Regions from separate parts of the Homo sapiens genome. Here all the other regions are linked to region 2. Evidence: fine-mapped expression QTL. A gene starts in region 2. Each other region holds a variant in brackets. All regions are shown on one strand. Distances are from middle to middle.

Region 1 (4,153 bases), 53 kb after region 2:
GGGTCTGTGTGGAGGATGCAGGCCAGAGACCCAGGGAGACCCTAACATGACACAGACCCAGAGAGAAACCTGGAGGAAGCCGAGTGGATGGAGGGAGTAGGACGCAGACAAACCTATGATATTCGCAGAGAAACAGGGTGGCCGTGAAATAAGAGCAGACACCGCAAAACTACACACAGAATCTTTCAATTAAAAGTAGAATAGACATAAATAATTTAATAGAAATGTTGAATATTAGACTCATTTACATCTCACAGAAACAGAATAAAAAGATGCACAGATGAAGAATTAGGGAGGAATGAAAAAAGAAATAGAGAATCAACCCAGAAATTCCAATACCCACTTAATGAGAAGAGAGACCAGAGAGGTCAGACAGGAGAGACCAGCAAAGAAATAACTCAAACAAGTGGTCCAGAACTGCAGACAGGAGCCCAGATTGAGAGAGTAGCGCATGCATGAAAGAACAGAGTAAAAACACCTGTGTCATCCACATCCTCATTGCTGAGACACTTCAGGCAGAGCTCACCAGCAGCCCAGGGGCCAGAGCCACAGGCCCCAGCACTCTCGTGGCAGAACTGGAATGGCTGAGACCTCCCTACAGAACGCTGGAGTCTGCAGGGCGGGAAGTGAAGCCTTCTCAGTTCTGAGAGACATTTCTTGCAGCCTAGAATCCTGGTCCCAGAAAGAAAAGGTCAAGGAGAGAATGGCGACGTCTCCAGACATTGCAGGTCTCAAAGGGTTCCTTCCACACAGGGTAACTCAGGCAGCCCTGAAGGTGAGGAGCAGGGAGACACAGGGAAATGTGGCCAGAGCCTTAGGAGCTGAGGCAGTGGGGGCCTCAGGGACGCCATGGCTGGACCTTCGATGTGCCTGATCGTCCAAGGGTCTTTCTTATTTCCGTTAGGAAGTATGTGGCTAGAACAGTGGTCCCTTCCTAGAAGTCTAAGGAAATAACAACTAAAATGCAACAGCTTCTAACCCCAGAGGAAACGGAGTGCATGAAGGGAAACTTAATCATTTTACAATTACACAGCTCAGCTGAGAATAAGCTCTGCGTGATCACAGGATGGCAACCTGGAATACTGAGGTCGCCACAGAGTGTGGCTATCGCATTGGAGGAGAAGGGGGTGCAGAGATTGTGGGTGCATGCATGTGCTTAGCAGAAAGGTTAGCTCCTCCCCCATCATTGAAGGAAATCAATAGATGAGCCCCAAAATAAACATGAGACACAAGCATGTTCTTTCACAGGAGGCAAACACCAAGAGACAGAGTGACAGCCGCAAGGACCGAGGGTGGAATAAGGAAGCCGCTTTCACCACAAACCAGGCAGTAATGCTGGCTCTTAAAAGCTTTGCAAGCAGTGATTCTTGCCCTTTTGGCCAAGACCAAGTGTAGTACCTGCTCTTAGCCGTTTAAGAATTTTACATATACAAGTGCAATAAAATTTACAAGTAAAGCCTTAAAAATATGTAGAAAGTTACGTTTTAAATAGCAACAAATAATTTGGGTGTTGATGTGTAAAACAGAGCAGGGCTACTGGGCTTAACTGGAATTTGAAGCAGATGCAGCTTATAAAATTTCAATAATCAGTTTCTGAAATTTTATTTTAAAAAATAATTATGAGTAGAGGACACGTTGCTTTTTATTTTGCTGGTAGTTTTCACTACACACAGACTGCAATTTGGGAATTGCAGAAAGAGACTGAGCTGACCAACTTAGAGCTGTGTCAAGAAAAGTTTCCATTAGGTCCTAAAGTCCCCAGAGGCTAGAGGCTAGGGAGGGCCTGCTACAGGGGCCAGCTGGTTGGACACGGCCTGAGCCCCCACACTCGCCCCCAGATGCTGTGGTTCTGCTGCAAAACCAGACCCTCGTTTCCAGCATCCTCTGTTTCCATGAGCAATACTATAAGCCTTGAGCAGAACCAGAGCCGCGTGCACAGACACGGTGTCATCTCATGATTTCCACCTCCTGAACCATGTGTGGGCACTGACGGCAGACTGGAAAGCGGAAAGCTGCGGGATGTAGTCCTTGCATGGACCCCATGGCCAGGACTACCTCAGAACTTCTGAGGGTTATGTTCCAAGTTCATTCCTGCCCCTGCTCAGGCCCCAAATCTGCCTGCATCTGCAAAGCCCTAGAGCTTGCAGTCCTTAGACCTAAATAAGTGGCTCCTGCTCCCACCAGGCCAGGCCAGTTAGGAGAGAGGGTCAAAGTCATAGGTCACAGAGTGATGCAAAGGATGATGAGATCAGGCAGTGGGGCTTCAGTCTGGGGGCTTCCACAGTGGTCCCAGCCTGTAGCCATTGCCTCTGCACCTAGCCAATGCACCACCAGCCCCCAAGACTTCCCTAGAGGCAGAGGAGGTGATGATAAGGGGACGCTGTGAGGGGTCTTCTGGTCAACTTGCCTTTCTGTGGCCTTTTCCCCTCTTCCCAGTGGAGCAAATTGTTTCCCTGTAGGAGAAGAAAAACTGGACGCCTGTAACCCATGGCAGATGAACAAGAGAAAAACAGAAGTTTATTAATCCACACACCTCATGCGTGGGTGGCAAACTCCAGGGGAAGACGCACAAATCTGCAGGAGGTGGCCCAGAACCCTAGCTTATCTTCAACTAAAATAAAGAAAGAAG[A/G]TGGGGGTGGCCGGCAACGGGGAGGTGACCAGAAAGGCAGGTGACCAAGGCCACAACTTGCTGTGGGCTTGTAATAGAGCTTTCTCCTCAACAAGTGTCTCTTGTAACTGAGTTTCCCTCTTCTTCCTGGATCCCAGAGGAGACACCCGGCAGGTAGAGATTCCTTCACAGAGGTAAATTCCCCTTCCAAAAGGGCGACTTCTTAGAGCTTCTCCTGCAGCTGCCATTCCTCAAAATCCTTGTTCAATGAGGCACACTCTGGGATGGGGCCTTCTCTCTCCTGAAGGTCCCACGGGAAGGCCTGGGCTGGGTACCAGACTCTCTTCCAAGCCAAACAACCTATCACCTGGAAACAGCCACTTTTAACCACAAGTGATGAGAAATGCTTTATTCTCTATTTGGATATTTTTAAGTGCCTCTGTACAACTGTCTCTGTCACCAAGCCAGTTCCACTGATCAGAGCACTGCAGGGGACATCAGATCGGGGATCCCCAACCCCCGGGTCATGGACCAGTACTGGTCTGTTGCCTGTAAGGAACTGGGCCACACAGCAGGTGAGTGACAGGTGAGTGAACAAAGCTTCATCTGTATTTCCAGCTGTTCCCCATTGCCCATGTTACCAGTTGAGCTCTCTCCTCTCAGAGTAGTGGTGGCATTAGATTCTCATGGGAGCACAAACCCTATTGTGAACTGTGCACAGGAAGGATCTAAGTTGCATGCTCCTTATGAGAACCTAATGCCTGATGATCTGTCACTGTCTCTCATCACCCTCAGATGGGACCCTCTAGTTGCAGAAAAACAAGCTCAGAGTTCCCACTGATTCTACATGAGATGACTTGTATAATTATATTATAATGTAATAATAATAGAAATAAAGTACACAATAAAGATAATGTGCTTGAATCATCCTGAAAGCATCCCCCCACCACCAGGTCCATAGAAAAATTGTCTTCCATGAAACTGGTCCCTGGTGCCACAAAGCTTGGGGACCACTGCTTTAGGGTGGAGAGCACCGTGCAATCCACATGTGCCATGGGCTCCACAATCCACCCGACGCAATGCTGCTTTTAGGAGTCCAGCAAACATCTACAAAGCATCTGCCACACACCAGGTGCTACACCTGGTACTTGGGTTGCAGAAATGAACAGAACATGACACTCACCTACCGAGAGGTTGAAGGCAGCTGAGGGCAACGGGTCATAATAAAGCAAGTAACCTAGAGCCACAGGTCTACAGCAGGGCTGGAGCAGGAGATTCTGTGGCACCAAGGAGGTCACCAATGCCCCTTCGGTGGGACTTATCTAGGAGCCGACAGAGTTTTCGGCAGTGGCCACGGCTCATTCCTCACCCCACCAGTGTCACAGGTTCTCGGTCTGAGGGCAACCGAGACAGCCCTGCTGGATTCGCTGAACTCACAGGCACTTCCCAGACATGCACTCAGCAGTGCCACTTTAGAGCACCCAGTGTCTGCTCAGATGCTGAGTCCCTGAACAGGAAAGCCTCTTACTTGTCTCTGTAAACCAA
Region 2 (4,153 bases):
ATCTCCTATTCTTCTACTTTTCCGCATGTTAGAAATTTTTCAAAGTAAGAACTTAAGGCCAGGCGTGGTGACTCACGCCTGTGATCCTAGTACCTTGGGAGGCTGAGGCGGGCGGATCACGTGAGCCCAGGAGTTTCAGATCTGCCTGGACAACATAGCAAGACCCCATTTCCACAAAAACGGTTTTTTAAAATTAGCCAGGTGAGGTGGTGCGCACTTGTAGTCCCAGCTACTACAGAGGCTGAGAGAGGAGAATAGCTTGAGCCCAGGCAGGTTGAGGCCGTAGTGAGCCGAGATTGCGCCACTGCACTCCAGCCTAGTAAACGGGGCAAGACCCTGTCTCAAAATAAAAAATAAAAACTTAAGAAAAAAAAGTGGGTTTCAGGATTCATTAGGAAAAATGGGAGAACATAGGAAGACTCAGTTTAAAATTCTCAAGGCTCTATCCAGAAACAATAATATGGCTCATCTTTGACCAATATTAGTTATTTGTAGCTTCTGCAGTTAACTCTGTAGCCACATATAAATTCTCATCATTACATTCAAGAAGAGAGCTGTTTAGAGTAACTATAACATTCTGAAATTAAAAAAAAAAAAGGCACGTAAGCACTAACGCTACCTAAAAGAAATTTCTCAGACAAGTTCAGATAGTAACCATATTTAAGCGCTTAACATAATCGGCTCCATTTTCCATGAGTTAGGAATGGAATTTAACGTTCATAGAAAATCTCTATCAAGAAGAAACAACTCCAGACCCTAAGAGAAACTCTTCTGCTCAGAAACTATTTCCAAGTCCTCGGAAGACAGGTACAAATCCTTATATTCCATTCGGCCTTAACAGCATCAGGAGGAAGTTGCCACACGTTTAACAGAAAGAGATATTTTATGATCCAGAATGCTGGATTTCTGACCTAAATTTCATTGTACATGAAAAAGAGCACTGCAATGGAAAAAGGGAGGGGGGGGGAGGGGGTGGGGGAGGGCACGTCTAAGGCACACAGGGCCCACCTGGGAGCCCTTTCAATTACAAAATTCTAGACATACCAAACATATCTCTACACTCGTCAGGTAAAGGCCTTTCAGTTTTCAGTACAAAGGACTTCTGCCGGCTTCCTTCAGAAAAATCAAGAATTTAAGAAAATACTTGTTATGCAAACAAACATTTAGCCCACTTAACATTGAGCTACGGTCGTCCAAAGCTGCTTAGTGTCCGCGAGGAGGCCGTCCGGATGCGCGATGATTCAGGCCTTCTCCGCCAGCTCCACCCGGGACGCGAGCACCCGGCGTGGACCTCTGCGTCCCGGGCCCACGACGCCCGCGCCGCGGGGTGCGCGCACTGCGTCCCCGCTCTCCTGGGACTGCGCCCCGAGTAACACGTGCAGGGGGCACTGGGTCCCCTGCAAGCGGCGAGAACGCCGGCAGCCCTGGCCAGTTAAGCGGGGAGTGGGTCCACGCGGACCACAGCGGCAACTCAGCCCAGGACGAGCCTCGGGTCAAGTTCTCCGACTCCGCACTCGGGCACCTAGCGGGCCGCGCCCCGGAGCTACGCGGCCCCAACCTCACCTGCCCGCCCAAACTGTGCCCCCAACTACCCGCACCTCCACCTGCGCGCCGCCCACCCTCGCCCTCCACCTGCGCGCCCCCGGCCTACTAGCACTCCCCACCTGCGCACCCCCTCACCTGCGCCTGGGCGGCGGCGGCGGCGGCCGGTGGCGGCCCCCCACGCAGGCCGTCCTCCTCCTCGGGGGGCTCGTCCAGCAGCACTCGGCCCCGGCCCAGCTTCCACATGGTCAGGCGGGCTCCGGCGTCCCTCCGTCCGTGCGTCGGGCTGTGGCTCCGCGTCCCTCCCGGCCGCCGGACGCTCTGCCTGCGGCTCCTGCGGGACGCGGGCCCAGTGGGCCGGGCGGGGCTAGGCGGGGGCGGGGCACCCCCAGAACTAGGCCCGCCCCCTCCCCACCAGGCCCGCCCCAAACCCTCCCCAGGACCCGGCCCGCCCCCAAACCATCCCCAGAACCAGGCCCGCTCCAAGCCCTCCTCAGGACCAGGCCCGCCCCAAACCCTTCCGAAGACCAGACCCGCCCCCAAACCTTCCCCAGGACCAGACCCACCCCCAAATTCGACGGGGCTCCGAATCCCATCCCCCACAGAAAGGTCAACCCCGGCCCCCTCCTCCCAGTGTGGTCCCCGCCACCGCCCCGGCGAGACCCTCGCCCTTCACTGTTCTACTGAACGACGTCCTCACCCCAGGCTACCCCGTCACCTGGTCCCCCCACCTTGACCCCCACCTACCCGCCCCTAGCTGCTTCCTCACCCGGAAACGCCCCCATCCTGAGCCCCCACCGAGCCCCTAGCCCTGCCCTATCCCCGGTTCCCTGGGTCCTCCTCTACCCCCGAGCCCCCACCCGGCCCCCGCAAATTCCCCTCTCCCGGTTCTCTCCTTCTCCCCCGCCGACCCCCACTTACTCCCGGACTGCCCCCTCCCCCCACCCTTTCCCAGACCCTGGCCGGAGGGCGTGGCCACGTCCGCTCGGGTCACCAAGGCAACGGCCGGGAGCGCAGTGCGCATGCGCGCCGCTGGCGCTCAGGCCGCGGCAAGGCTGAGGGGAAGGTGGAGGGGGCACAGTCCGCGGAGCGGCGCCTGTACCCCAGCGCTTCAGGGCATCCCTCGGGGCCTGGGCGCCGGGCATCCGGGACTCATCCCCTCCGGCGCCCGAGGTCGCGGGATAGTGGGGGCGCCGGGAGGAAGCCTCGCCCAGCCCTGGTGGGCGGTGGGGCCGCTGGGGCCTGGGGCGCCGCGGGCTCGGCCCGGACTGACGGCGGTGGGGGGCGGGGATGGGGCCGTGGTGCCGGGCCGCGCAGAACCCTTGGGACCCCCGCGGCGCCCAGGTTGGGGCTCAGGGCCCGGAGAACGTTTTCCCGCGTGGCTATGGCTTTGTCAGAATCAGGAGCGGGAGAGGCGCCCACAGATTCCTGAGGGCAGAACCGCCTGGTTCCCAGGCCGAAAGGAGCCGGCGAGGCGACCCCCGATCCCGGGACGGAGCCGCGGGAACGGGGGATTCTAGGCGTCCGCTCCCGCCCAGCAGGTTAATTTTTCCCGCGACGCGCTTCGTATCGCTTCTTACACCAAATATGTATTCATGTGTTCAGTCATGTAAAAGCGCATTTTGAAGGAGGATCCAGAACTATGAGCTCCCTTGAAAACTGCAAGCTTCGTAACTTTACGACTCTTAAAAAAATGAAATGTACATTTTGAGTTTCCCAGAAGTGATGAGCAGCAAAGCTTTTAAGATGAAAGGGGCTCTGAACTGCCTTTGGGAGATGCCGGCCAGGATCCCGGAGAACCGAGGGGGTGGCGCCCGTGCCCAAGGCCTGGGGGGACCTGGGGCCCTGGCGCGGGACGCACAGGGAGGGCGGGGGCTGGGCCTGGCAGGAGCCCCCAGCCGAGTGGGAAGAGCCAGATAATAACCTAACGATACTAACCTAACTATACCGTCACCCAGAGAGGAGGGCAGCACCCCTCCCACATGCCTCCCTCCCCCGGTGACCGCTAAACCTACCGGCCGCAAACATCACGAAATAGAATTAAACACTGGCGCCTACTAAGGACCACTCCACCCAGTACAAACTAAATTTGAGAGTTCATCTTCACGCAAATAATAAGAATGTTAAAAATGTATATATGCTCCTTTTCAAACAAGGCCTAATAGGCCTGGCCTCCTGGGCTAGGGGGCTTAGAAAATTGCAAATGCAAGATGGCATGGTGTGGCTCCGGGGTGCTGTCAAAATAAGCACATTGCAAGCACAAACTGATGAAAGTCAAAAACTATCAAACAGAGGTTGCAAAACAAAGTCAGGATCCAAACACAGCCCATATAAAGACGCTACAAATAAAACACAGAAAACCAACTCAGAACACTTGGACAAATAACACAAATCCCCCTGGCTAATGCGAAGGAACACAGGGCTTATGCCCAGACAGCTGGCTTCCTCTCAGTCTAGCAACATCCACTCCATGAATTGTCATTAAACTGTAATCCCCTGCAAATCTATGACAATCTGGAAGAAGGTGAGCCTTGCTAAATAAAAAAGCTAACTTACTGAATATTTTAGACATTTAGCTTTCTTCTGAAGAAGAGCACAGCTAGTCAGGATA
Region 3 (4,153 bases), 33 kb after region 2:
GGTGTTGGCCTAACTGTTACTAAAAGTGCGGCTGTAGAAAAAGAAACCTCAGAGGCCTGTTTTGTGGCTGAGACGAGAGCATGAATATTATTTTGGAAGAAACCATACCCAAGTTAGGCCCCATGAATACAGACTCAGCAGTGGGCGGCGGCATGGCCAGTGCTATAAGGAGCACAAGGAGGACACAACTCCTTCACTGAAAGGCCAGTTTTTTAGGGTTCTGCACGCATTTATTATTTTTGAATCAGTCACTCATCCATTAACAACAGTTTATGAGGAGCCTGACTTGCCCCAACGCATGCTAAGCCCCACCGGGTTGGTTTCCTATTCCCGGACGGACGTGGGAAGGAGCCACTCCAACCCTGACGAGGACCAGCATAGGCCCTGCACTGGAGCTGGCCATGGCGAGGGGGTGGCCACTGCTCCAGGAGCGAGTCCAGGAGGCCAAACAGTGACCCCGTAGCAGTCGCTGCCCCATGAGGCCAGGACTTGACTCATAACCAACACCTTCCCGGATTTTTTTTTTTTTTGAGATGGAGTTTCACTCTGTTGTTCAGGCTGGAGTGCAGTGGTGTGATCTCGGCTCACTGCAACCTCCACCTCCCAGGTCCAAGCGATTCACCTGCCTCAGTCTCCCGAGTAGCTGGGATTATGGGCGCATGCCACCATGCCCAGCTAAGTTTTGGATTTTTAGTAAAGACAAGATTTCACCATGTTGGCCAAACTGGTCTCAAACTCCTGACATCAAGCAATCTGCCCACCTCAGCCTCCCAAAGTGCTGAGATTACAGGAGTGAGCCACTGTGCCCAGCCGCCTTCCCTGGTTTTTCTCCTACTTATAATTTAAGATCAACCAGAGAAAGCACAGTGTGCCCCCCGCAATCCTGCAGGACCGTCTCCCATTTTCACTCCCTGGCCTGCCTGTGAGTCTCTGCCAGATACAGTGATGGATGATAGATGATAGATGATAAACGGATGAGCTGGGAAGCGGAAGGAGGGCAGGTGGCAGGGCTGGAAGAGAGGTAGGCATGGGCGGAGGGACGAGAAGTCACAGGGCAACAGTTTAGAGGTCGGTGAATCTGGGTTGAGGGTATAATTGGCAAACAGGAATTATCTTTGTTATTCCTGTACTTTCTCCATACACTGGAAATTATTTCAACCTGAAAACCTGAAAAGCCCATGAAGGAAAGAACAAAGTAGGCTGGACGCCAGCGAAGGGGCCAGCCTGGCTCTCTCCATCTTGCTCCTGCCCATTTCCGCAGGCCGCCAGCATTCTCCCATGGCAGAGCTCTGGGCTCACAGCCTTAGAGACCCAGGGCCCAAATGGCAGGTTGTGTTTCCTTTGTTCCTGGACGTTCTGGCCAGAAGATCCCCATGGAAGGCCTTCGATGGCTCTGTCTTGGGTGAGGCCGACTCTGTGGGCTGTGGCCAGGGTCGGAGGCTCCGTGGTCAGGAGCCCAGCCAGCTCCCAGGCAGCCCTGCTGCCACCCTAGGCTCTTGGTGATTTGCCAACTGCACTTGTCCCCCTTCCAGGGAGCACCTGATGCCCCTCCCTGACCCTCCTCAGCCCTCCCTGAGTGGTACCATTCCCAGCTTCAGAGGCTGACACA[G/C]GACCTGGGCAGTCCAAGCCCAGCCAATCCCTGGACTTTGCTGGGCCACTCTTTTCTTCTGAACTTGAGTGAAAGGAGGCCCATAGAAGAGGGCAGGGCCCGCATCACTTAACCCGCAAGTCCTCTGGGACACTGTGGTCCTGCTTCCTGCGCCAGGCATCCCTGGGCTCAGATCCTTCTTCAGGTCCTGACACCGCCTGGGAGCTTGGCCTGGGGACTCCTGTGAAAACCACGTGGCACAGACCACATTGATCGCTGTGCCTGTTTGTGGCTGTTTGTGGGCCAGGGGCACCCACCTCATGCAGCAGGGGTGAGTTGTCTCCCGTAGTATGAGGACAGAATCGTCTGCAACCTTGCAGGGGACTCACAGCGTGCGATGGCCGGCGGGCGTGGTCAGGACCACCCAAGCCCAGATGCTTTTCTCGCCCCCAGATCCGAGGACCCGGGAGACATGTGGCTAGGAACATGTTTCATGTGTCGTCAAAACACTTTCCTCGGCACAGTCCTTTAAATTACTGTGAAAGCCACTGGGATATGTGACTGATTTTAAAGCCCAAAGTGCCACAAGCTGCCAGGATCATCCTCTGGGGCTTAACAGCTTCGTTGTGGCTATTGAAGGAAAATTGATCGTAACGAGTTGGAAAGTCACCAGATGTCCTCTATGACACTGAGCGCTGGAGACCAGGCATAGACCATGCTGGGTGCACCCCCGCCCCTGCCCTCCCACCAAACACCCCGCCAGGTTTGCTGAAGTCCACAGGAGACTGTTCAAGGCATCGTTCCAGACCCCTGTCCCTCGGCAGGTGAAGTGGCAGCACATGGCTGCCTCGCCATGAACACCCACATTTCCAGCTGTGGGTACTAAACTCAGGTAAAAATCGTTCCTCTCCCGAACTGGACCTTGCTAACAAACACATTCGCTGCCCAGACCACACTGTATCTTGAATCATGGTCCTTCCCCTCCTAGTTTTGGTCTCTTCCGTTGGAGAAGCGTGGGCCGTGTGGCCTCAAAGCGCCCCGTGGCTGGAGCAGTTAGAAACAGCCACTGTGGCTCCGTGGTTGCCATCGCCCTGCACTTCCTCAGGGTCCTTCGTGAGGCGACCGAAGGCCTCTGATGGGCACAGGGCTGTGGAGTGCAGCAGACACTAATGGAAATGGGATTGGCAAAGACACAGGACAGCAGCCCGTGGAATGCAGCTCTAACCCAAGCGACCTTGAGCTCTGATGCTGCTGGCACAGCCGCTCCTCTCAGGGAGCAGCTACCGAGCCTCAGAAGAGCATCTGCCACAGCCCCAAGCAGAGACTCCAGCAAGGAGAGTGGATCCATGGGGCCCTGTGGCCCTGGCAGTGTGGACAATGACTCAGCTCAAGACATGGGTCTGCTTGGGACCCCTCCCTCCATGGTGTGGACGCTACTTCCCCACAGCACATGGGACCAAGGACATGACGGTGCCAGGTACCTTGGTGCCATGCACCGAACGCTGTGTCCCTCACCTGGTCCCTGGTTGGGAGCATGGACTTGGCATCTCTATGTCCCCGCTGAAGGGATATAAGCCCCAGAGTGACCGGGCCATGTCTGGTCGGGGCCAGGTGATGGCTTCCTCATGACACCAGCATGCCGGCTCACGTGTGCTTGAGTGCCAGAGTCGGCTCCCAGAGGGCCCAGGACTCAGTACCACCCCCAGCACGGAGCCCAGCTGGGCACAGGTGATGGAGGTGCCCTCCGGTGACATGAGTGGCAGTGCCATTGAGGGTCTCAACATGCCAGTCAGCATGGCGGGGGTCACTCAGGCATAGCGTGTCAGTTGTGGGGAGGCTCCGTCCATAGATGCACTGCCTGAGGCCCGTCAGGCATGGTGGTCCTGGTCCTGTGTGTTTACTCCTCCTGTCTGAGGGCCACTCAGGGCACTCCGTGGTGCTCCCCAGAAGCCTCTCCTCACTTGCTGGTGCAGCCTCACCTGGGCTGCCTGTACTCCCTCCTCATGTCTCAGTCCCTGTGTGCTTGGCCCTGTGCTCACCTGTGCTCCTGTCAACACTGCAGGCTGGGAACTCAGTGTCCCATTCGCTGCCTGGTCACCCACATCCCAGGCTAAGTGCAGGTTCAGGAAGCGTTTGATGAGTGGCTTTGCAGTGTTCGTGCCTGGGTGTGTTGTGAGCAGCACTGGGCTCTCAACTCCACTGTCTTCTAACTCTGTTCTCTCCATTCCGCTTGGCGTATCTGTCCGTGGTGCTGTGGGAGCCTGCAGGTTGCCTCTCACTGCTGCGGGGGACCCGCTTGCCACGCGGCACCTGCCCATGCTTCCCACCTGACCGCCGCCCACATGCCGGATGTGCTGCCGCTCCACTGTGCTCACCAGCATTCAGGGCTTGACTTTACGGGCTTTTCAAGACACGTGGGTGTAAAGTGGTGTCTCACTGTTTTCATCTGCATTTCTCTCCTTTGCAGTAACTTTGAGGTTATGAGCACACACATGGTGCTTGTGTCTCTTGAACTGGCTTCCTGTGGTGGCTATCAAATGACCACGGATGCAGTGGCTTAAACAC
Region 4 (4,153 bases), 61 kb before region 2:
GGTGACAGAGCAGGACCCTGTCTCTAAAAAGGTTTTTTAATAAAAACAAAAAATAAATGGTCACACATTCCTAAGATGCATTAGGCTTTGCTGGGAGATGGCCCTTCTAGTTCACCATTGAGCTTAGCATTTGCTGCTGTTAAAATTAGAATAACCTTTATTCAGGATGTGCTCCTCCAAGATGAAACGGATGTCCGATTCTGGGAGCCGGAGGAACACGCTGCAATGCACTTTCAGACTCTGCAAGGAAGAGTGGGCAGGCACACAGAATCTCAGGAAGACGGTTCAGGGCGGCGGGGACATTCATCATGTGTTTACCGTCGGCTCTGACAGCCCGGCTTGAAGCTTCCTTCTAAGGATAGAGACTGAGCAGAGACTCCATGTGTCCTGGGCCTCAGTGGATAAAATTAGAATATGCAGGAGCCTGGGCAAATGAACCTATGACCCTGGGCAGCTGGCAGACTTTAAAAGCGAATTCCAGGTACAAGTCTGTTTTTTTAAACATCTGCCCAAGGCTGCCATGGACCAAATTCCTAAAGATACCTTGTTGCCCTAGAAATGTCTCCAAAACTCAATACCCCACTAGTTTTCCTACTCTGTCTAGAGACTTGGCTCCCCCCTCCCCCAATTACATGACCTTCTTCCATCAAATCCACTCTCCACACAATGAAGAAAACAGCACCTAATTCTGATGAAAACGTCTGGCCATGGGACAAAGCCCCGCAGGGCCCAGCTTTGGCCTTAATGGAAGGCGGGGTTAGGGGTATGACACTAGCCCCCCGCAAGAGCTCTGCTTCACCTCACACAACCAACCTGGTCCTCACTCTGGGTGAGGTAGAAATGTCACTGGCTCTACTTCCTGTTGATATGGGGACATTGATCCTCTCTAGGGTTGAGAACCAGGATTTAGACCGAGAAATTGACTTTATGGCGTCAAGGGAGAAACAAGCAAGAGAAGAGCAGAAAATGAACAAAATGAACAGGAGGGGACCACAATGGACAGTGGTTCACAGATGAGGGCCTGTTTCAGAAGAAAGAAGAAGCCTCTTGGGGGTGGCACACAGGTGAGAAGAGCCATGGGTCAGGGCACCAAGGAGCCAGCCAGGTGAGCAGGACTCTTGGCGGCACAGGTGCCCCAGGATCTGCAAGAGGATTCTATGAAAGCGCATGCTTAAAGACGCTGCAGGTGAGCCTGCCCGAGAACACCTCCCACACGAGTTGCCCCACGCTCCCCAGGTTTGGCCCCTCCACTGGCTGTTCGGCAGTTCCAGCCCTGAAGCCCCTCGCCCCTCCTCACAGGGCCTCCCACCATCCGCAACCCTGTCCTCACCCACCAGCTTCCTCAGCAAGCAATTCTTTAAAGTGAATCAATTTTAAAGAGTATTAAGAATGTTATAGCATAGATAGCACTCGCGTTACAAAAATGAGAAATCCAAGAACTGAAGTTCAGAAGGCCCACACCAACCACACCCCCCGACTTTTCTCATGTAAACGGGAGGGCATTTCAGAACCCCACTGGCACATGCTGCCAGGGCAGGGCTCCTCCCTTCTGCTTCCAGTGCCTTCTGCTCCCTGGGCCCAGTGCTCAGCCATGGAAGGAGCCAGTGCAGCTGTCACACGGGCATCTCCTGTGGGCATCTTGTGAGGGGGGCTGTCATGCGGTGGCTGCACAGGAAGCAGCCGTGGTATCTGGGGCTGGGTGGCAGCCGGCACGGGACCCAAACCTGGGCCCTACAAACCCTGGGGACCATGTCCCAGTGGAAGCACCACCCTGGGCCAAGACCCTGAAACACTAGAGAAGCTTTGGGAAGGTGCTTTCATGTAGAATGGAGGGAGACAAAGTGGCTTCCTGGCACTTGGGTGGGAGGTGGCAGGGGCTGCATGCAGAGCTGGGATGCAGGCCTGAAAGCTGCATCTCCTCCACCAAGAGCACCCCAGACCCCGACCTCAGCAGCAGGCAAGGGTTGGGGAGGATGTGCCTTCAAGCTGATCGTGTTTTGAATACTTAATAGAACATGCTGCAGTCAGGCCAGGCTGAGGCCGGGCCCACAAGTGGATCCCGCAGAGCACAGCTCAGATCACCAGAGGCCCAGAGTAGGGAGTCGCCCAGGCTGCACTCGTGTTGCTGGCACAGGCCACGGCCTCCTGAGACGGAACTCGGGCCACCACACACCTTATGAGGGATGCCACCCATCCAGCCA[A/G]GGGACGCCCAGACTTGACAAAGACTCCCCAGAACCACACAGCACCAAACCCCATCAGGGCCCAGCAACTTCAAAACAAGCTCAAGGCCAAACGGCTGTCTGCCTTGGTGCAAAGATCCCAACTTCAGCATCTGACCCCACACCCCACACCAGAGGGGGACCTCCCTAGGGAAATGCCAGAGGTCATGGTGGCAGGTGGCGCCTTCCACAAGGGAGCCCCAACGCTGTCACAGTGGCTCAGACCTGGTGCAGGCATGCCCCTTTCCTGCCGAGACTCTGGGGACGTGGCCTTGGCCTCGAGCCTGTCTGTCCTCAGCAGGCTGTCCCTGGTGGTCTGTGTGAGCTTCCCTGCACCTGTGATACTTTGCCTCATTCCTGGGAAATGCTGCATAAATACCCACAACTGAATGAAGGTTGCCCTTCCTCCGCACCTCAGTCTGCAGTCTCCCATCATCTGGTGTCATTCCACCTGCCACAGAACAAACTCATTCCAGGCGTTTAAGAGCGGGACTCTTGGACCTCACTCAGCATCTATAAAATGGGCACAGCAATGCCGGCATTGCAGGACTGTGCTAAGGCCCCAGAGGGAGGCAAGGGCAAAGCACAGGTGTCTGACGGGTGTGGCGCAGGTAGGCGTCAACGCCTGCTGGGGCCCAGTAAGGCCAGGCCGCAGGCTGGTGTGGCTGCTCTAAGCCCTGCCACCTGCCCCCTCCCTAAACAGCAACAGGAGCTCAGACAGATGTCGCCTGAGCCCCTCCCAGCCGACTGCAGCAGCAGAGGCAGCCGAGCCTCCTCCAAAGCCCACAGGAACAGGGAGGCAACGTGGTCAGGCAGCCCTGCCACTTGTCACTGTTTAAAAATTAGGTCATTTTTTAATAATCTAATAACAAGTACATAACCTAAATAAGAAGTACTTAAAGTTTCATTGTGCTCACTTCTAGTTTTATTTCTGAGCTGAGGTTTTTTGGCAGAAAGTTTAGTTGAATCCTCAAACACAGCTGGCTGTATGAGCTGGAGTTTTCCACCTCAGGGAACTGAAATATATTAATTCAATCAAAAATAGTTTACTTCCTCAGGGGAAGTGAACTGATTTTGTTTTGTTTACCTCCCTCCCACCCCAGCCTTTCACTGTGCCAAGTCATTGCCTAAATTTAATAGCTTGACATTCTGGGAGGCCAATGGCTTTCACCTGCGGAGGGAGTGGGGCGGTCAGCAAGGGGTGCATTTTCAGCTCACCGTGCTCAAGTTGAGAAGGAAAGAGACGGACTTGACACCTCCTAAGGCTTTCAACCCAGTGGAGTAGAAAGCCCCAGACACTGCAACATTCCTGCCTGGCAAGAGGTCCCCTCTGTGCCTGAACTGCACTGAACTGACTCCACCCCAGGCTGTGCCCGCTTCACAGTTTGGTAAACATTGACTTCCCACGATGCCCACATGGAGGCTGCACCTTGAGGAGGAACAGGATACACGCACGCAGCCAGAGAGCAGGACACCCGCGTGAGAGGCAGAGGCGCTTCAGAGATGGCACCAGCAGGACCCCAGGCTTCCAGTTGCTGCCTCGCTTCCCCGCGATCCGAGGTGGAGCTGCTGAGACAGCAATGGCATGTCTAGGAAGCACCACAGGTATACAAGCACTGTGTTTGTGAATAGTCAGTACTCCTTTCTAGTATTTTTTGACATACTCCAGAAACATTAAAAACAGAGGTAAAATTCACCCCATTCTTTCATTTAAACATAACTATTAAAATTTATCATTTATCACATATCTTACTGTGCTTCTTCACAGCAGCGAGGGGGACACGCTCCAGCTCCAACGGGAACGTGTCCGCATCACCAGATGACCCGTGTTCTTGCGGCAACACAGCAGCAAAAGGTGGCTTTGCCTTATCAGAGGCCGCCAACACCAGTGCGCTAATGTCAGACTGTCTTGTGTTAAAAAATACAGATTGCCA
Region 5 (4,153 bases), 45 kb before region 2:
TGGTTTTGGCCAATTTTTCCCTTTTGTTGTGGGTGCATTTACCCAACGCCTGCACCTCCATTGTGTCTTTAAAGTAACTAACTTGTTTTTGATTTTACAGGCTTATAGGCAGAAGGGACTTACCTTGTCTTAGATGAGACTACTTACCTTGTCTCAGATGAGACTTTGGATTTGACTTTTGAGTTAATGCTGGAATGAGTTAAGATTTTGGGGGATTGTTGGGAAGGCATGACTGGTTTTGAAATGTAAGAAGAACATTACATTTGGGAGGGGCCAGGAGCAGAATGATGTGGTTTGTCTCTGTGTCCCCACCCAAATTTTGTGTCAAACTATAATCCCCACATGTCAGGGAAGGGACCTGGTGGGACGTGACTGGATCATGGAAGCGGATTTCCCCCTTGCTGTTCTTGTGATAGTGAGTTCTCACAAGATCTGATCATTTAAAAGTGTGTGGCACCTCCCTGTTCTCTCTCTCTCTCTCTCTCCTGCCACCAAGTAAGATGTGCCTTGTTTTCCCTTCACCTCCTTACGTAAGTTTCCTGAGGCCTCCCCAGCCACATGGAACTGTGAGTCAATTAAACCTCTTTTCTTTATAAATTACCCAGTCTCAGGTAGTTCTTTACAGCAGTGTGTAAATGGACTAATACAAGGTGATTCCCCTAAGATTCCATTTCTGGTATCATAAGGAAAATCAACAGGAAATGAGAATTATTGAAATATAAATTATTACCTAGTGTTTCCATTGAAATTATTAGGAATAAGATGCCAAAAAAATAGTCTCTAGTTTATGAACTTCAAACAACGTTTTTGTTTTGTTTTGTTTTGTTTTTGGAGGCAGGGTCTCTCTGTTACCCAGGCTGGTGGCCTGGCCTACTTCCTTACAAGAATGCCTTAATCTCCCATTTCTGCATACAATTTTCCAGGAATTCCACCCTTTGAACACCACGCTGGGCTGGCAGTAGAACCCACATTTCCAGTTGTGTGGTCTCCACTAACCACACCACTGTCCCTGTAGCACCTGGGTGGCTGCTGCACATCCCATCAGATGACCCTGGAGCTGGGACTCCATCCCACCACCAGCTTCCTGAGCCCCTGCTCTAACATGCACCTCCATGGAGAACAAGTAAGGGAATCCCTCTCTACTGCCAGGTGAGCAATTAGAAGAGGTTGGAGTCCTAGAAGGTGCACAAACAGACATGATCGAAGTGTGAGCGTGAGGAGTGCTGTGAGGCCACTCCTCCACTCATCCACTATGCGGGCAGAAAGAATCCATCAAAACCAGATATCTCGGTCTTCACCTGAAGTCTCCCACATTTCCCTCTGAGCATCCCCCGGGAAGGACAGGAGGGAAAGTCCTCACCTGAGCACTCTGCTCCTGTAGCCAGCAAGGCTGGCCCTTGAGGTGGAGTTCCTGAAGGGCCCAGGAAGGACATGGACATTGTCCTGAGGTGGACAAAATCTTAGGTGGCGACAGCCTAAGTGCTGCTCATGGTATGGGGCATGAAGAAAGTTCTCCTCTTCCACGGGAAAAGCCCTGTAGAGTGTTCTATGGGAAGGCAGAAAAAACCTAAACACCTCTTGAGGACCAAGAAGAATGATGGTAAAACATTCTTAAAACTAGGATTCAATTCAGAGAGAAAGTGACATCCAAAACAATGAAGACAGATGAGATGTGCCGTAAAACGCTGGTAATGACCAAGAAGTTAGGCCACAGAAATGAGAAAGTAAGTTCCTGCACAAAACAACGAAAAATTATTTTTCCTGTTTTAGCTATACCTTAGTTGTAAAAAAGTGCTTCATGTTTCATGAAGAAAATCTATGCAATATTGTAAAGAAAATTAATATCCATAATTTACCAAAATTATTCCTGTTAGGTTAAACGGCAGTGTCTTATCAAAAATGTGCAGAGAGGCCAGGACCTCTGGCTGGCATTGAATACACAGGGAGCAATAAACCTCATCGGCAGGCCCCACCAGTGCGCACGTCCAGATCCTGTCCATGAGCACAGAGCTTGGGTGTGGCAACCCTGAAGGCCTTGTTTAGAAGAACTGAACCTGCCAATCTTCACCTCCTGTAATCAGAAAAGAGATCCTCATCTAACCAAGTGACACTCTCAGAAGTGCCATCCTTCATACTTAATCTCACAATTTGTAATCTTGAAATCTTAAACAAAATGTCCAAGATACAGTGTCATTTGCGTTTTCTCCTATTTTTCATTAAATGTAAAATTCAAGCATTAAGTTCTGAATTATCCCAATAAAGCAGATGGAAATTTCTCCTTTTGCCACAGGAAGGGCAGGTGTATCGGACTCCGGCCCTGGGAGAAAGCCTCCAGGCTGCTCCCTGCAACTCTGGGTCCTGACAACCAGGGCAGGAAATAGCACAGCAAGGCTGAACAGTGACACCTAAGACCAACCCAGTAATGTGGGCAAGACCAGGAAGTGTTACACCACAGTACCTGTGAAGGACAGAATCCAGCAAGAGGGTTAACAAGAACATGAGCAGGCCGGGCGCGGTGTCTCACACCTGTAATCCCAGCACTCTGGGAGGCCAAGGTGGGTGGATCACAAGGT[C/T]AGGAGATCGAGACCATCCTGGCTAACACGGTGAAACCCCGTCTCTACTAAAAATACAAAAATTAGCCGGGCGTGATGGCGGGCGCCTGTAGTCCCAGCTACTCTGGAGGCTGAGGCAGGAGAATGGCGTGAACCCGAGGAGGTGGAGCTTGCAGTGAGCTGAGATCGCGCCACTGCACTCCAGCCTGGGCGACAGAGTGAGACTCCATCTCAAAAAAACAAACAAACAAAAAAAACATGAGCGTAATGCTCGGGTCAGCTCACTGCATGCCACATAACCTGCACCTACCAGTTCAGTCCAGAGTCCATGTAATTTTAGTATTTCATTATAAAGCAAATTTCCTGGTATACTTCTTTTGTTTTGTCTTTTTGAGATGGAGTCTTTCTCTGTTGCCCAGGCTGGAGTGCAGTGGTGTGATCTTGGCTCACTGCAACATCCACCTCCCAGGTTCAAGCAATTCTCCTGCCTCAGCCTCCTGAGTAGCTGGAATTACAGGCGATGGCCACCACACCCAGCTAATTTTTGTATTTTTAGTAAAGATAGGGTTTCACTATGTTGGCCCGGCTGGTCTCGAACTCCTGCCCTCAAGCGATCCAACCGCCTCAGCCTCCCAAAGTGCTGGGATTACAGGCGTGAGACACCGCGCCCGGACCTTTCCTGCTATACGTTTTAAAGGTATTTAAAGTCATAGGTCAGGAAAAATTAGAAACCTTTCTTAAGCCAGGTATCCCAATTTCTCATCAGGAACACTGCATCACAGCAGGGTGACCATGTGCAGGGCCAGCATGGGACTCAGTACAGACGGTTTGCCGTTATCAACCACAGGGCACTGGCGTCCCTGCAGTCATGGGCCCAGAAATACAGCTCTTTGTGAAGATGAGGGGAACATGGAAGGAGCTGTGCATGACCCTGACCCACCCTCTCCAAAGCCCACCCCCAGAACAGTTCTGGACAAAGGCTTAGCGCTGGCATTCAGTGTCTTAAAGCTGTTCTGGGGGTGGTGACGTGGTGAGGGAGGACTCTGGGAAGAGTGAAAGCACAGGCCCCAGGCCTCTTCTTGGCATCGCCATTGGCTACCACCTCCCACCTTCCTGAATACTGTGAAAATGCTGTGATCCTGGGAACACAAAACACAGTGCCCCCAACAGGCTAAGGTTTCAATTACGTACAACAAAAAGGCACAGAACAGCTTAGTCTTCTTTCATCCCTTCTAAATTTGGGAACTCACAGTGAACTTATCTTTAAACACACTGAAGCTATTGAGAAACTGGCCATTCTGGAAAACATTGGTTGATGAACCCAGTCCTGACATCCAAGTCAAACTGTGAGACCAAATCCCACAGTCATCAGATGAGACCCATCAGGCCACAGGAAGGCCCGCAGCCGTGTTCACCAAATTGCAGGGTGCCAGGCCAACGACCCTTCAGGGTGTGGTGGGGCTAGGCGGCCATAGCGAGACCAGGCTCCCACCAGAGGGGCTGCTGATCTGACCCCCAGCCTGCCTGAACACAGTCTGACTCAAAAAACTAGCTCGGGTGACCTAGGCATACCTCAGCACACACAAACATGGAACCCAGAG
Region 6 (4,153 bases), 340 kb before region 2:
CCTGGAAGCCCGTTTTGTCCATGATTTAGCAGGAATGCATTACCCTTCCATGACGAGGCACAGCCCACAGAAACCAAGGCCATTCTTTGAAGAAAAACATGTCTTAATAGCGTTTACATTACGTAACAGTGTAATACAAATAATAATTTATTATTAGTAATAATGTGAAATTATTTACAGTACCGTAACCCTAACTCTCACCCCTAATCCTAACCCTAACCCTAACCCCTAACCCTAATCCTAACCCAAACCCTAACCCTAACCCAACCCTAACCATAACCCAACCCTAACCCTAACCCTAGCCCCTAACCCAACCCTAACCCAAACCTAACCCTAGCCCCTAAACCTAAACCTAACTCCTAACCCCTAACTCCTAACCCTAACCCTAACCCTAACCCTAACCCCTAACCCTAACCCCTAACCCCTATCCCTAACCCCTAACCCCTAACCCCAACCCCAACCCTAAACCCAACCCCAACCCCAACCCGACCCTGACCCCGACCCCTAACCCTAAACCCTAACCCCTAACCCTAACCCTACCCCTAGCCCGAACCCGAACCCGAACCCTAACCCTAACCCCTAACCCTAACCCCTAACCCTAACCCTTAACCCTAACCCTACCCCAACCCCAACCCTAACCCCTAACCCCTAACCCTCACCCTAACCCTAAACCACATGAGCAATGTGGGTATTATATTTTGGGTGTCATGTGTGCATTAGGAATGCTGCATTTGTGTTCCGACACTGCAGTTGGCCCCTGCAATGCAGCCCCTCGCCTTGACTTGGGAGAATCTCGGTGCGCAGGATTCAGAGGGGCTTTTGGTTTCCCGTTTTCCACACTGAACCGTTCTAACTGGTCTCTGACCTTGATTATTAACGGCTGCAACCGGGAAAGATTTTATTCACCGTCGATGCGGCCCCGAGTTGTCCCAAAGCCAGGCAGTGCCCCCAACGTCTGTGCTTAGGAGAATGCTGCTCCACCTTTACGGTGTCCCCCAGGTCTGTGCTAAGCAGAACGCAGCTCCGCCCTCGCGGTGCCCTCAGCCCGCCCGCCCGGGTCTGACCTGAGGAGAACTCTGCTCCGCCTTCGCAGTACCACTGAAATCTGTGCAGATGAGAACGCAGCTCCGCCCTCGCGATGCTCTCCGCGTCTGTGCTGAGGAGAACCCAACTCCGCTCTCGCAAAGGCACGGCGCGCCGGCGCTGGCGCAGAGAGGCGCGGCGCGCCGGCGCAGGAGCTGTTCGGGAGACGCGGCGCAGGGCATAGACGCACGCCTCCGCGTCCCCGGAGGGGAGGGGTCGCTGGGCGGGCGGGAGTGAGGCGCGGCGCAGGCGCAGGCGCAGAGACGCACGTCGCTGGGCTCAGGATGGCGGGGCGTGTTGCAGGTGTACAGTTGCACGCCGCCGGGCGGGGAGCGCGGGAATGGCGAGGTGCAGGCGCAGAGACACACGTCCCCGGCGGCGCAGCGCACAGACGGGTGGAACCTGAGTAATCTGAAAAGCCCGGTTCGGGTGCCCCCTGCTTGTACCCGGGCACTACAGGACCTGCTTGCCCACGGTGCTGTGCCATTGCGCCCCCTGCTGGCAACTAGGGCAACTTCAGGGCCCTCTTCCTTACAGTGGTGTCCAGCGCCTCCTGCTGGCGACGGGGCACGGCAGGGCTCTCTTGCTCGCAGTATACTGGCGGCACGCCGCCTGCTG[G/A]CAGCTAGGGACATTGCAGGGCCCTCTTGCTCACATTGTAGTGGCAGCACACCCGCCTGCTGGCAGCTGGGGACACTGCCGGGCCCTCTTGCTCCAAGTGTAGTGGCGGCTGCTCCCCTGCTGGCAGCTGGGGACACTGCCGGGCCCTCTTGCTTGCAGTGTAGTCGGGGCACGCCCTCTTCTGTCCGCTGGGGGCACTACAGGATCCTCTTGCTCAGTGTAGTGGCAGCACGCCCCCTGCTGGCAACCAGGGCACTGCACGGTCCTCTTGTTCATGGTGTGGTGCCCCTACGCCACCTCCTGGCAGCTAAGGACACTGCAGGGCCCTCTTGCTCACAGTGTAGTCGTTGTTCGCCCCCTGCTGGCAGCTAGGGACACTGCCGGGCCCTCTTGCTGACACTGTCGTGGCTGCACGCCACATGCAGGCAGATGGGGACTAAGCAGGGCCCTCTTGCTCCCGGTGTGACGGCTGGCGTCCCCTACTGGCCGCCTCCTGCACCACTTAAAGTCAGAGCGCCAGTTATTAATCCCCATCAGTTCTGTAAATGAAAACTGAAAAGGAGCTATTACTGGGGAGAGCTGATGTCCCAGTTATTAACTTGGAAGAAAGATTTTCACCAAGAGGCAGTACAAAGATGGAAGATAACTTCATTGAAAAGAAATACAGTGTAAAGAGCTTATTGTAGGAAAATAGGGAGGAGTGGGTTCATAGTGCATGAAAACAGCCTAAGAGTCCTGTGCAGGGAATTTTATTTTGGACTTCTTCACATTCCTGCCTCTGTCTCAAGTCTATGCTTGTTTTCCTTGGTTTTCCTGCTACTGCCTTAGGTCCCTGACTTGCCCCACTTAGGCTTGTGGGACCTCCTGTTGATTGAGGTACACGTGGGGTGATGAATCTGAATCCACTCTGGCACCAACCTCCTTCCCGCCATCCCAGGCAGGCTGACAGCAGTCACGTTTGTATCTACTGCACCTGCCTCTTTTGAATGTCTTTCTCTGCCCTAATCTGTACTTATGGTGCCAGGTTTCTCTTAGGAATGTCCCCTTTGTCCTTCTTATCAGCATGTAGCTAGCAATATTCTGACATTTTTATTGCAGTGAATGATGATTGGGGCATCTTAAGAGAAGTTCTAGGGTGTTTCTGTGTAGGTACCTCTTCTCCCTCCTAAGCACAATTGACAAGTGCCCATCCACTCCAGCACTGGAGATGCTACTAATATGTGCATTTTTGGTGGTCCCTCCAGGTGAGCCTTCACAGACTTTCCCTTTTCCAGGAGCTCCCCCTCCTGTTCACGTCTAGCTAGCTATCTACTCTAACAGAGCCCACTATCCTGTGTCTTTCCCAAAAATAGTGAGGGAATGATTAATTGGAAACCATAAGAAATCATATGCATGTAGATGAAAACTTTACAACTTACACAAATAACCACTCAAAATCATCCTTACACTAAAAATGCAAAACTATACAATTTCTAGAAGAAACTATAGAAGAAAAGCTATGTGCCTTTGCGTTTGGTGATGAATTTTAACAAATGACACAGAAGGTTGATATACACAGAAGAAATGACAATGTGGATTTCTTAATATTTACAGTTTATACTCTGGAAGAGACCTTGTTAAGAGAACCAAAAGACAAGCCACATATTGAAGAAAATATTTGCAAAATACAGATCTGAGAATTTGTATTCAAAATACATAAAAAATTGTTAAAACTAAACAATAAGTTAAACAGCCCAATTAAAAATGCACACAGATCTGAACAGACGCCTCACCAAAGAAGATCTACAGATGGCAAGTACACTTACAAAAAGATGCTCAACATACTAGAGAACTGAAAACCACAAAAAGATAGCACAGCTGGTCTATATCTCTTAGAACTGCTAAACTCTTTAACAAATGACAAATTGCTGGAGGAAAAACAAGAACTCTTTTCATTGCCGGTGGAACACAGTGTATAAGACCAAAATATGCCACCCCAAAATATAATGGTAGGAAACCAGAATATGCAACCCCAAAATATGTCCCTTTGGCTTAAGAATTATTCCAAGCTAATTATTTTGAAAAAAAAAAATGCTAACAAAGGAAGTTGTGAAAACAGAGAAGTTACACTTGTGTAAGGAAAATTTACATCTATAAAGGAAATCACCATTTAAAAGCTACCTCTCTCGACACCAAGAAGAGAAGGATAACTAAATCACTAAAGAGTCTTATCAATGGAGAATGCATGGACTTAAGTCTGTATAATGAACCTTACCCTTGTCTAATGTGCTTTTGCTGGTTAACTCCCCAATACTGCACCTCAAATCTTCTTTCTTTAAGTTGAAGACAGTATTTATGCTTGAATTGAAAGCCACCTGTTGGAGATTTACTCATTTTTCCCTGAATATCTCCCATGTAACCATAAGGTATACGTGTTTTTCAACTTTTCTGTTTTTCTCATTTTAATCTGTCA
Region 7 (4,153 bases), 160 kb before region 2:
CCACAGGACAAGTTTCCCGGCAAACACCACGCCCCGCGATATGGCAGGATTCATGCCGACTAATGGAAAACACACCAGATGCTGGAAAGAGATAAAGGAGAGCGTTACTGCAATACTGTGTAGAAGAAAGGCCATAGATGAGAAAACACAAAGCCAGTGTTGTCCCCTCGAAGACACTGGAGCCCGGGACACAGAGCTCGAAAAGCCTCCTTGGGGTCACGCTGGAAGATCCTCAACTCCGGGACATGGCGTCGAGAAGAGAAAAGAGGTGAGAGAAATTTCCTTGGAGACCAGCGCAGCAACGAGGGCACAAGGGAATGGTCCCACACAGATACATGACACCTGCACATCGACGACACACATGTGACACGTGCACAACACATGCATGTGTATTACATATATGACACACATATGTGACATGCACACATAACACCTGGATACCTGTGGCACATGCATTATGTGACACACACAGGTATGGGACACACATAAAATGTAGCATACATTACACTATGATACATGACAAATATAAACAAAGTTTCTGAAATAAACGTTTGATCTTTCCACACAGAGTGGACGCAGTCCCAACAAGGCTGCATAGAGTCTGGCTCTCTCCCTGGCTGCTAAGCGGCGCTGGGGCCATCAGTGAGGCGGCCGGTCCAGGTCCAGGCCTGTCCTTAATGAAAGATGAGGCGGAGCAGCCCCGGGATGCCCCCAGCACCGAGATGCCGGGTGTGACCCATAGGACTGCGTGTAGGGCAGAGTGAAGCTGCTCAGAAGCAGATTCTGCCTGGTTGGGAAGCAGCCTGAGCTGCCCCCAGGGGCAGGGGACCGCTCTCTGGCCCCCAGGCTGCCTCCATGGTCCTCAAAGAGGACTTTCTCCCACCGCGTCCATGCCGCAGCCCTCACTTCAGACCTGCCCTTGAACCTCTGCCCAGGGTCCAGGTGCCTCAGACCCTTCGTTCTTGGGCACAAGTGCAGGCCTTACTCCTTTTCCTGCACCCAGGCTTGGTCCCCGCCCAGCCTCTGGCCTGAGGACACTATACACACAGAGCGCAGTCTATGTGGAGGCCAGAAAGTGGAGGTCAAACACATATGTCTACTAATTATTTGAATTTATTTCTTATTCTTCCTATTTATTTATTTAGAGAGGGGATCTCACTCTGTCGCCCAGGCCGGAGTGCGTTCATTGGTGATCATGGCTCACTGCACCCTTGACCTCCCAGGCTCAAGCAATTCTCCCACCTCAGCCTCCTAAGTAACTGGGACCACAAGCATGCACCACCACACCTGGCTATTTTTTTAAATTTTGTAGAGATAGGGTCTCGTCGCATTGCCAAGGGTGGTCTCTAACCTCTGGGCTCAAGCAGTCCTCCCACCTAGACCTCCCAAAGTTCTGGGATTGCAGGAGTGAGCGACTGCACCTGACCACAGTTTTCTTTGTTAGCAGTCAAAAAAGACGAAGAAAGAACGTGTTCAGCTGTAATTCCTAGGAAAAAATATGTTCGGGCCGGGCACAGTGGCTCACGCCTGCAATCCCAGCACTTTGGGAGGCTGAGGCGGGCGGACCACCAGGTCAGGAGATCAAGACCATCCTGGCTAACACGGTGAGATCCCGTCTTTACTAAAAATACAAAAAAAAATTAGCCAGGCGTGGTGGCGGGCGCCTGTAGTCCCGGCTACTCGGGAGGCTGAGGCAGGGGAATCGCTTGAACCCGGGAGCCGGAGGTTGCAGTGAGCCAAGATTGCGCCACTGCACTCCAGCCTGGGCGACAGAGCGAGACTCCGTCTCAAAAACAAAAAAAAAAGAAAAGAAAAAATATGTTTGGTTTCATTATGATACTTCTTGAACAAAGATGATCTGAAAAAAAAGAAAACGAAAAGTCACCCGAAGTAAATTAAAAGAACAAAACAACAACTCAGGAGGCTGGGAGGAAAAGCC[G/A]TGTTTGGAAAACACAGGAAACCGTGAGGCTTTTCTGCTGCGTCTGCCCCACCCTACACAAGCTCTGGTGTGGGACACGTCCACGCAGAGGCCCTTCTACGCAGCGGAGTTAGGAGACCTCGGAAGACCCAGATATACAGAGCATGCCTGAACATAAACGCAGATGCTTGCATTTGAAGCAGAACACTGAAAATGAAACATAGCAGAAAAGCAAACGTGTCAACGTCCTTTGAGAAAGAGTAAGCACAGGGGTGTGGAGGAGAGCCGGGCCAGCCTCGGACTCAGCCTCCCTGGAGCCCGAGACGTCCACTTCTGTGGGGTCCCGAGGGAAGCGGATGTGGTCCTCTCCTAGCCAGCCACATTTGCCTTTAAGTAAAAAGGCAACTGACAATCTTTCTCAAGTCATCAAAAACTCAAGGAAGATCCATCCAAACAATAACGACAAAAATCAACCAAAGAAATACGCCAAGAAAAAGGGTGGCAAAGTTAAAATTTACTTCAACAGGCTGGGCGCAGTGGCTCCCACCTGTAATCCCAGCACTTTGGGAGGCCAAGACAGGCGGATCCCCTGAGGGCGGGAGTTTGAGACCAGCCTGACCAACATGGAGAAACCCCGTCTCTACTAAAAATACAAAATTAGCCGGGCATGGTGGCCCATGCCTGTAGTCCCAGCTACTCGGGAGGCTGAAGCAGGAGAATCGCTTGAACCCGAGAGGCAGAGGTTGCGGTGAGCCGAGATCAAGCCATTGCACTCCAGCCTGGGCAACGAGCGAAACTCCGTCTCAAAAAAAAAAAAATTTCACTTCAACAGAGAAACTAAGACTCAACCAATGTGAGCATTATAAATAAAGAGAATGTAAACGTTATGAAGTTGAAACAGTAAGTTGGAGTTTTCTGAAGAGAAAGCTTTTTCAGGGCCCATACCTCTCCTGCCTTTATAGATTTTCTTTTCCTCGAGCTACCAAAAGATGCCTTTGTCCTTGAGGTCTGGTTACAAGTCAAGGTATTTTACGATATCGATCTTTATCACTTTTTTTCTTGGAACAGAAGATAAACAGGTACAAATGTTTCATTTTTTTAAAGACGCTTTGTGTTCTCAGCTCTTTCATTTTTTTTTATTTCTTCAGTCTTCTTTAAGAGCACCAACTGCACCCATGCTATCTTCCGTCATCTCTACAGCTACCATCTTCTCTGAGGTCACTGCAGTCGCATTGCTGTTTTTCGTGTCATCCTGTGTGACTTCCTCAGATCTGTTCCACGCGTCAAGGACTGTTTCCCGTCAATTTATTCTACTTGTTTGAGCTTCTCTGTCAGCTAACATGTTTACATCTGGAAGGTTTTCCTCTTGCATTTATTTCCTGAGCCATCATAGCTCATTCTTCCCTCACTCCGCAAACTGCCCCTGGGCCCTTACACCCTTCAGTTCTTTTCCCTAGAAGGGCTTAACTGGACTCTTACTTTGGAGCGATTTTGTTGTTTCTTTGGATTTCTTCCTTCTTTGCCCTTTTCAGTTTTGATTTTTGTTTGTTTGTTTGTTTTTTGAGATGGAGTCTCAGTCTGTCACCAGGCTGGAGCATAGTGGCACAATCTCGGCTCACTGCAACCTCCGCCTTCCGGGTTCAGGTGATTCTCCCACCTCTGCCTCTTGAGTAGCTGGGGCTACAGGTGTGTGCCACCACGTCCGGCTAATTATTTGTATTTTTAGTAGAGATGGGGTTTCACCATGTTAGCCAGGATGGTCTCGATCTCCTGACCTTGTGATCCACCTGCCTCAGCCTCCCAGAGTGCTGGGATTACAGGTGTGAGCCACTGCGCCCAGGCTTGAAACATTTTAAAGACAAAAAAAATGTACAAATAATTTTATAAAACAGTCATATTCCCACAACCAGAATTAACAAAATATTTTGCCACGTTGGTTTCTAGTCCTTTGGAAAGGACTCTGGCGAGGTAGAAGGATCCTTAAAACAACACAGTTGAAGCCTCTCCCACCCGGGGCGGCCAGTTTGAGGTATTTGGTTTGTATTTTTATATGACTGTTTTTTAAGTTTCACATACCTGTATATTTGCATTTATCCGTGACATAAACCTGTCTTTTGAGCATGTTACTGATGTGACGGGCACTGACCTGCATTGACGACTCTGCTCCTTCCTGTTCTCACAGTGCTGGTTAACCCAAAATCCATCTGGTCTGTTTCATTCTACTAGTTTTTGGCT

Alleles and levels. Alleles are on the strand shown, and positions count from the first base shown. SD is a standard deviation of normalised expression in the study named. Not every link is listed here.
For the expression in testis of the gene that starts at base 1,865 in region 2, allele A in region 6 goes with a higher level than allele G (small effect, 0.34 SD a copy in GTEx).

Evidence for each region. PIP is the estimated chance that this variant, and not a neighbour inherited with it, causes the effect.
Region 1: its variant is the best candidate, but not a certain one, in a credible set for the expression of TDRP in whole blood (INTERVAL, PIP 0.88).
Region 3: its variant is the best candidate, but not a certain one, in a credible set for the expression of TDRP in whole blood (TOPMed, PIP 0.61).
Region 4: its variant is the best candidate, but not a certain one, in a credible set for the expression of TDRP in whole blood (INTERVAL, PIP 0.67).
Region 5: its variant is the best candidate, but not a certain one, in a credible set for the expression of TDRP in whole blood (INTERVAL, PIP 0.60).
Region 6: its variant is the best candidate, but not a certain one, in a credible set for the expression of TDRP in testis (GTEx, PIP 0.52).
Region 7: its variant is the best candidate, but not a certain one, in a credible set for the expression of TDRP in whole blood (INTERVAL, PIP 0.59).

Annotation. Positions count from the first base shown.
Region 1 is chr8:595,679-599,831 of GRCh38, forward strand. No RefSeq gene overlaps it. Among named protein-coding and RNA genes, the nearest start is that of TDRP, 53 kb to the left of the region's middle. The variant A/G (reference allele first, on the strand shown) is at 2,630.
Region 2 is chr8:542,970-547,122 of GRCh38, forward strand. It overlaps TDRP (testis development related protein), which reads right to left and starts at 1,865. Exons shown (of 3, transcript NM_001384899.1): 1 at 1,681-1,865. The coding sequence starts at 1,788. RefSeq lists an enhancer at 2,844-3,344.
Region 3 is chr8:576,087-580,239 of GRCh38, forward strand. No RefSeq gene overlaps it. Among named protein-coding and RNA genes, the nearest start is that of TDRP, 33 kb to the left of the region's middle. RefSeq lists enhancers at 1,327-1,828, 1,829-2,328. The variant G/C (reference allele first, on the strand shown) is at 1,610.
Region 4 is chr8:481,968-486,120 of GRCh38, forward strand. No RefSeq gene overlaps it. Among named protein-coding and RNA genes, the nearest start is that of TDRP, 61 kb to the right of the region's middle. The variant A/G (reference allele first, on the strand shown) is at 2,202.
Region 5 is chr8:498,421-502,573 of GRCh38, forward strand. All of the region lies in intron 1 of TDRP (testis development related protein), which reads right to left. Among named protein-coding and RNA genes, the nearest start is that of TDRP, 44 kb to the right of the region's middle. The variant C/T (reference allele first, on the strand shown) is at 2,574.
Region 6 is chr8:205,067-209,219 of GRCh38, forward strand. It overlaps LOC124902051 (a long non-coding RNA gene), which reads right to left and starts at 214. Exons shown (of 2, transcript XR_007061161.1): 1 at 1-214. It also overlaps the pseudogene RPL23AP53. RefSeq lists silencers at 1,756-1,835, 1,960-2,182. The variant G/A (reference allele first, on the strand shown) is at 1,702.
Region 7 is chr8:385,324-389,476 of GRCh38, forward strand. No RefSeq gene overlaps it. Among named protein-coding and RNA genes, the nearest start is that of FAM87A, 4.2 kb to the left of the region's middle. The variant G/A (reference allele first, on the strand shown) is at 1,940.